Regions from separate parts of the Homo sapiens genome. Here all the other regions are linked to region 1. A link means that fine-mapping ties the variant in region 1 to the expression of a gene that starts in the linked region. Tissue or cell type: whole blood. Region 1 holds a variant in brackets; each other region holds the start of a gene. All regions are shown on one strand. Distances are from middle to middle.

Region 1 (2,713 bases):
AAAAAAAGAAATACTCACTCTCAGACATGATCCTTAGAAGCTCTTGGCCGGGCGCGGTGGCTCATGCCTGTAATGCCAGCACTCTGGGAGGCCGAGGCAGATGGCTCAGGAGGTCAGGAGATTGAGACCTTCCTGGCTAACACAGTGAAACGCTGTCTCTACTAAAAAAAAATCCAAAAAAATTAGCCGGGCGTAGTGGCACGTGCCTGTAGCCCCAGGTACTCGGGAGACTGAGGCAGGAGAATCGCTTCAACCTGGGAGGCGAAAGTTGCAGTGAGCCGAGATCGTGCCACTGCACTCCAGCCTGGGCAACTGAGCGAGACTCCATCTCAAAAAAAAAAAAAAAAAAAATGCTAAGCTCAGTCTATTCATAACATCTCAGTGAATTCTCAGAGAAAGATCCAACATGAAGGAGTTGACTGTGGCATAATTGCAACCTCTTCGGAGTGGGCAATTAGTAGATTTGACAGATAAAAGCAGTCTCTTACCGGTATATGCAACCTTGATGCTTCAAAGACCTACGCAAAACGAAAAAAGGAATTGTAGCTATTAATCATAGAAAATACTCAAATTGTTCTAGTATTTATTCATCCTGTCTTGCTCTAAAGACTGCAGCCTAGCCTTTGCCATGAGAGCCAGCACTATTTTTATTTATTTGTTTGTAGGGAGGGAAGAGGGTCTGATAGCACTGGGTAAGAACTCAATTTCTGCTTTTCTTGAGTCCCATGCTTATCTTCTTTCCTCGTATGACTTATCAACTCTGGTGGCAACGTCATTTCTGTATTTAATTCAATCAGATCTTCCCACACTGACTTCGCAGTGTCACTGCCATTGTTATTCTGTAATTATAACTTATTGCTAATCTCTGGGCTACTAGATAATATTTAAGTACATGATTCACAGAGGGACTGGAAGAAAGATACTAGAGCCCCATCTTTTCTGCCACTTAGTGTTTTCATGTCCCCATCTTTCTGTTTTATGTAGCTAAACAGATCCATCACAGAGGCCACTCCCTGGGTGCCACACTCTGTACTCTGGGGGCACCAAGATGGGTAAGAGGTGGTCCTCACCTCCATCCCTAACCTCTGGTGGCTGACTGCCCTCAGAGAGCACTTCTTCTTATAAGAGGTAGAGTGGGCCGGGTGCGGTGGCTCACGCCTGTAATCCCAGCACTTTGCGAGGCCGACGTGGGCGGATCACTTGAGGTCAGGAGTTCAAGACTAGCCTGGCGAACATGGTGAAACCCCGTCTCTACTAAAAATACAAAAAATTAGCCGGGCATGGTGGTGGGTGCCTGTAATCCCAGCTTCTCGGGAGGCTGAGGCAGGAGAATTGCTTGAACCCAGGAGGCGGAGGTTACAGTGAGCTGAGATCGTGCCACTGCACTCCAGCCTGGGTGACAGAGTGAGACTCCATCTCAAAAAAAAAAAAAAAAGGAAAGAAAAAGAAAAAAAAGGCAGAGTGGGCTGCTATGGACACACTTGGCTTGGGAGGCACCATGGACCGGAGATATTTTCTTTGCGGTACCTACTCTCCACATCAAGCCACAGTGAGCAGAACCTTCAGACAGCACAGTGTGCTAAGGATCCTATCTCCTTCTTGCTGCAGGGGTTTCTTGCCCCAAGTAGCTCACCCAAGTACACTTCCCCATGAATTCAATGAATAAGACCAAAA[T/C]TAAACCCACAACTTCCCTAAACTATTTCCTTCTCCTAACTTCCCTGGTGTGCTCCTGACATCGTGTTCTTCCAGACGCCAGGCCTAAAGACTTAGCCCCATTTCTGACTCCTCTGGACCCTGGACCCCACGAGGGTCTGAGCACTTTCTGTGTCTGATTTCACCTTGCCGTGGCTGTTCACGCATGCCCGCCTCTCCAGGGCCTCGGCCCCGCCACTCTTGAAGCCGCCATCTTCTGTCTCGCACTATCACAGCAGCCTGCTACCTGCTCTCCTCACTTCGGCGTCCCTTACCCCAGTCATCCTGCACTCTGCTTCCCCATGGATCTCCTTAGACTCTCAGGCTTAGCTCTGAACAAATTACTTCCTGCTCAAAAACCTTTAAGTAGTTTCCCCACCTACTATCTCCTGAATGACACTGAAGAAAACTTTTCTTTAATTACAAGCATATGCCAAAGTTTGATCATAATCTTGCTAGAAGAAAATTTTCTTCAGCAGGCTAATTCAAAGATTACTCTTAGTAGTGGTATTTCGTAGGAAAAACAATGGTAGTCATTGTTATGCCAGATTATAGAAGGTTTAGCTAAAGACTGCTAATGGACAGCTGGTTGGGCTCAACAGTGGATTTCCAGAACAAGTCTTCAAGTCTTTACAATGGATCAGATAATCAATAGGGCAGTTATCAGGAATGCTAATTCTCCCCAGAAGAGGATTATAAATTACATCACGCACAAGGTTCTGTCCCAGACAGATTGGGTGCAGGTTTTCTTTAGCAATAGTCACAGAAACAATGTGCGTTTAAGCTGGAAGGACCCTTAGGGAAGAGCCACTCCAACCCACATGAGAAGACGAAGGCCCAGAAAGGGGCGAGGGTGGGCCCCCGGCCTATGCAAGATCCACTTTGCTCTCAGACCATCAGGCAGGCAGCTTTAGGGCGGTCAGTTCCTTGGAACTCAGCATGGGGTTAGGGTCCCAGACCTGCTGAAAAGAAAAGCCAGCTTAACTCCACCCTAACTGAGTATCACATAAATAGCATTATA
Region 2 (2,500 bases), 110 kb after region 1:
CAGACCTGGATTTGGCAGCAGCGTGGCCTTAGTCAAGCCTCGGTTTCTACACCTGCAAAGTGGGAATAATGCCTACCTTGGAGGGCTGTTGTGAAGATTAAGGGAGATAATACATGTAAAGTACTTAACCATTTGCCTGGTGGGGTAGTTTTTATGACCTAGATCCTAAATTGTTCACTGCTGCTGTTGCTACTCTTGGTACTTTTTACTGGCTGGCATCTGCTTGCTTAAGTTTATAACATAGTAGGAGCATTAACAAGGTCCCACGGTGGGGACCTTGGTCGTTTGACGAGATCTGCGCTCCCGCCCATCCCCTCCCCCCCCCCTCCACATTGGAGACGCGGCCACCACCGCGCTGGCGCGGAGAGAGGGAGGACCGGGCGTCATGCTGTTTCTGGCCTGAGGTTTTGTGTGCCTTTGTTTTCCTTTTGCTCTATTCGTGTATTCCTGCCTACGGCCTGTGCGGGGAATTAGGAGCTCAGTACTGAAACGGCGGTTTTCCTAAACAGTACCGGACGGGCGCGGGGGCTGACGCCTGTAATCCCAACACTTTGGGAGGCCGAGGTGGGCGGATCTCTTGAAGCCGGGAGTTCGAGACCACCCTGGCTAACGTGGTGAAACCCTGTTCTTACTAAAAATACAAAAAAAAAAAAAAAAAAAAAGCCAGGAGTGATGGCGCTCGCCTGTAATCCCAGCTACTCCGTAGGCTGAGGCAGGAGAATCGCTTGAACCCGGGGGGCAGAGGTTGCAGTGAGCCGAGATTGCGCCATTGCACTCCAGCCTGGGCAAAAAGAGCGAGACTCCGCCTCAAAAAAAAAAAAAAAAGTACCTTCCGTAGTTCTCATGCAGCGGAGGGGTTCGACTTGTAACCGGCCTGAAACCAAGCGTGGCGCAAGATTTGCTCAAGCCCCTCCTCTTGGCCAAACTTTCCGGAGGGGAAGGCTTTCCGAGGAAACGAAAGCGAAATTGAACCGGAGCCATCTTGGGCCCGGCGCGCAGACCCGCGGAGTTTCCCGTGCCGACGCCCCGGGGCCACTTCCAGTGCGGAGTAGCGGAGGCGTGGGGGCCTCGAGGGGCTGGCGCGGCCCAGCGGTCGGGCCAGGGTCGTGCCGCCGGCGGGTCGGGCCGGGCAATGCCTCGCGGGCGCAATGAATCCGCGGCAGGTAAGCCGGGCCGGCCTTGGACCTTCGCCGCCGTCTGGGTTCGTTTACAACCTCACAGGCTTTGTGTTGCAGTGCGTAGCGTGTGCGTCTTGTGAGTGTTAGAGTGTGTGTGTGTGTGTCGTCTTGCCAAGCAGCATTGCTGGTTTAGGAATTTGTGCGTCTTGTGAGTGTGTGTGTGTGGGTGTGTGTCGTCTTGCCAAGCAGCATTGCTGGTTTAGGAATTTGTGCGTCTTGTGAGAGTGTGTGTGTGTGTGTGTGCGTGTGTGTGTAGTCTTGCCAAGCAGCATTGCTGGTTTAGGAATTTGTGAATTTGTATCCTGCTCATTAATTCTGCAGAATGGAGCAGTGCGTGAAGAGGGCTTGGGGGAAAATGCGCCCCCGTCTGAGTAGGAAGGCCTGAGCCCATGTCAAGGCAGACACATCGTCTCCCTTTCTGCTAGGGCCCCTTGTGGAACCCCCTACCCCCGCTTTAGCCCCACTTGAACAACGTTCGGACTTTGAGCAGCGCACACTATCCTCAGCTCACCTTATCCACCTCCTGAAGGCCTTCTGGGAGTTAAAAATGGCACTTAAGCTGTAGGAGAAAGCTTGTTAACCACTTTATAGCTAAAAACTGGGAAAACACAAATGGCCTTCAGCAGGTTAACAGATAAACTGAAATACATCCACATAATGGGATACTGCTTAGTAGTGAAGAGGAAATACTGTTACAAGTAACAACACGGGTGACTCGCAAGTGCGTTATGCTAAGCACGAGAAGCCAGACTCAAAAGGCTGCATACTGTATGAGTCCATTTATATGACATTCTGGAAAAAAAAAACCACAGTTATAGGGATGGAAAGTGGATCCGTGGGTGCCAGGGACTGGGTATCGTGGAAGAAATTGATTGTTGAGTGGCATGAAAAAGCTTTTTAGGGAAATAGAAATGTTCTATATCTTGATTGTGGTGGCGATTGTCGAAATTCATAGATTTATACACTTAAAAGGATAAATTTTACTGTATCTAAATTATATACCTCAATTTTGTTAAGATATATATATATTTTTTTTTTTTTAAGCACTCCTTTGAAAGGATTAAGGACGCCTAACTTGAAGGAAAAGCATTTCTGCACAGGTGTCAGTGTATTGCACTGTGGAACCTGTGTGGTAAAGGCAAAGGGGGTAGTGCTTATCTCTTGATCCTAAATATGTGAGACCAGATTAAAGTGAAATCTGGGAGGCAATGAATGTTAAATGAGTTGTTATGTAATTTGCATAGAGGTGATGCTGAGAGATTTAGAAAGGATCACTGTGGGTTGCTTGCTCACTTTCTTGCTCTCCTATTCCGTAGCTTTCC
Region 3 (2,500 bases), 160 kb after region 1:
CCTAAACCAGATAAATGGCCCCACGAAGACCAGGAACAGACTATAATCGTCTTTAAATACCCATACCCCAACTTGACCAAAGGAGGCCTCTGCAGAGGCAATTGAATAGTCTTCCAGCAAAGGCTAGCTCATTTTAGTACAAGTGGGAGAGAAACGGGGCAATCTGACCAGTGGTTTAAGGGCTGAGTTGGCCCAGCAGAATTGACTAGGCCTTACCACAGGCTAATAACACTTGCCCTTGGCAAAACGAACGCCAGCTCGGGATTTCTGTAGCTTCAACCAGCTTTGTCCTTTGTGATAGTGCCACCTAGCGAGGGTCCGGAGGCACTACCTACTCCTGGCAGCTGCCAAGACCACTGCGACAAGGTGTTAGCCATTTAGGCCTAGGAAAGGGAATGGGGACCACCCGAGTCAGCACTCCTTCCATGACTCTGTGGAGGAAGCCCATGCTGTCCTTCCCCCAACCTCGTCCAGACCCATGGGGTCTGAAAAGCGCGAAAGGCCTGATATTAACTAACACTTGTACATAACACAGCAGTGATCTATTATCATTCCTCATTTTATGGTGTCCTCGCATCGAATCCCTCCCTGGGAATAGGAAAAACAGGCATCATTCTCATGAGAGCCATTGTACAGATGAGGAAACTGAGACTCGGCGGGAAAGTGGTTAACCCAAGGTCACAAAACGCCATGAGAGCCAGGGCTGGGACGAGAATCCACGCCTCTTCCATTCCGGTTCCCGGCTCCTACCCCGACCACCCACCCGAGTGTGAAGACACAGCATGCCCACCCCCACGGGGAGCAGAGGCTCCAGGATCCTGCGCCGAAGACCAGCATGTGGGAGCAGGATAAAGACTGCACGGGGAAGACAGCACTTCTTTCTTCTCTGTCCATGGAGTGCCGGGCACGCTCGCCACGGCTCGGGGGCGGGGGAAGCGGCGCCCGGGGCAGGAAACAGCGTCCTGCGCGGGTAGCCCCTGGGAGCACGCGGCACCGAGTCACGTGAGAGGGGAGCGCAGGCGAAGGGGCGTCGCGCGCAAGCACGCACGACATACGCAAACTCGCACTGAGGCGCCCACAGAGGCAAGCCCCAGGCCCCGGGTCACATGTGGAGGGTGGCAGGCGAGAACAGGGGGGCGGGAAAGACGGAGAGATCACGTGGAGGAGGCCAGAGCAGGGAAGTCACGTGAGGGGGACGGAGGCGGGGCCGCCTAGGAGGAGGAGGAGGAGGAGGGGCGCGCGGCTTCCGGCGGCTGGGGGGGCCAGCGAGCGGAGGGGGGGGCCTGTCCCGGAGGTGGCGGCGGCGCCATCTTGGCGAAGGGGGGATCAGGAAGTGCGGACCGCGGCGGCGGCGGCGGCGGCGGCGGCGGCGGCGGAGCCCGGAGCGCAGGCCGGAGGCTCCCGGCCCGCCGGCCCCGGAGCGGAGCGGAGCGGAGGATGCAGCAGCCGCAGCCGCAGGGGCAGCAGCAGCCGGGGCCGGGGCAGCAGCTGGGGGGCCAGGGGGCGGCGCCGGGGGCCGGGGGCGGCCCAGGGGGGGGCCCGGGGCCGGGGCCCTGCCTGAGGCGAGAGCTGAAGCTGCTCGAGTCCATCTTCCACCGCGGCCACGAGCGCTTCCGCATTGCCAGCGCCTGCCTGGACGAGCTGAGCTGCGAGTTCCTGCTGGCTGGGGCCGGAGGGGCCGGGGCGGGGGCCGCGCCCGGACCGCATCTCCCCCCACGGGGGTCGGTGCCTGGGGATCCTGTCCGCATCCACTGCAACATCACGGTGAGGACCCCCTCGCGTGCGCCTCTGTGGGGGCCCCTTGTCAGGGACCCAGGATCACTCCATCCAGCTTTTTGCTCTCGAAGGACCTGGGAGGCCGAAGCCCCTCTCAGGGCTCAGTTCTTTCTCTCCAGGTTACATTTGTTTCTGCTGCTTGAGGTTATGCAGTGCACCCAGAATCTCTACCATTGACCCCAATAGCAAGGGACACCCCGACATATGGCGCCTAGACTACCCGTTTCCACGAACCCACCCACATCCCAAGGTTCATGATTTTGGCTCTTTTTGGCTACTCCTCCACAACTTTACCTTGCCACCTAGGAATGCGTCTTTCTTCCCCTTACTCTTATTTCAAGGTTTTAGGCCTCGGCACTGACCCTAACTGCAAAGACCTGGCCTGAAACTCACTGCACATTTCAGCGATGCCCCCTTCTCAGTAGTACCTCTGACTTAGGAGGTTGCCACCTGTGGGATCCCCGCCTAGGCATCCCTCATGCAGACCCTCTTGCTCTCTCAACTTCACCAAGTGATAGTTTGCAATTCATTGACTCCTCTTCCTTCTCTCCTTTGGATTCTTTTTCTGGTGTAACCTCTAACTCTCCTCTTTTTGCCTCAGCTGGTAGCAGTTCTGCCACTCCCCTGCCTGTTCCCTATGGATATGTCCATTTGCCCTGGGTTGTTGCTTTTCCTGGTAATGATAGTGATGTGATGTGCGAGGGCTACCCCCATTTATTCTAAG

What was found. PIP is the estimated chance that this variant, and not a neighbour inherited with it, causes the effect.
Region 2: ADAR starts here. The variant in region 1 is fine-mapped to the expression of ADAR in whole blood (INTERVAL, PIP above 0.99).
Region 3: it holds the start of UBE2Q1, and the variant in region 1 is fine-mapped to the expression of UBE2Q1 in whole blood (TOPMed, PIP above 0.99).

Annotation. Positions count from the first base shown.
Region 1 is chr1:154,720,024-154,722,736 of GRCh38, reverse strand. The region is part of intron 5 of KCNN3 (potassium calcium-activated channel subfamily N member 3); the gene reads left to right. Among named protein-coding and RNA genes, the nearest start is that of ADAR, 110 kb to the right of the region's middle. The variant T/C (reference allele first, on the strand shown) is at 1,675.
Region 2 is chr1:154,606,655-154,609,154 of GRCh38, reverse strand. ADAR (adenosine deaminase RNA specific) reads left to right here and starts at 969. Exons shown (of 15, transcript NM_001111.5): 1 at 969-1,163. The coding sequence starts at 1,149. RefSeq lists enhancers at 1-26, 696-1,085 and a silencer at 1,086-1,195.
Region 3 is chr1:154,557,491-154,559,990 of GRCh38, reverse strand. UBE2Q1 (ubiquitin conjugating enzyme E2 Q1) reads left to right here and starts at 1,329. Exons shown (of 13, transcript NM_017582.7): 1 at 1,329-1,764. The coding sequence starts at 1,438. RefSeq lists enhancers at 313-893, 894-1,475 and silencers at 845-934, 1,055-1,144, 1,235-1,314, 1,635-1,734.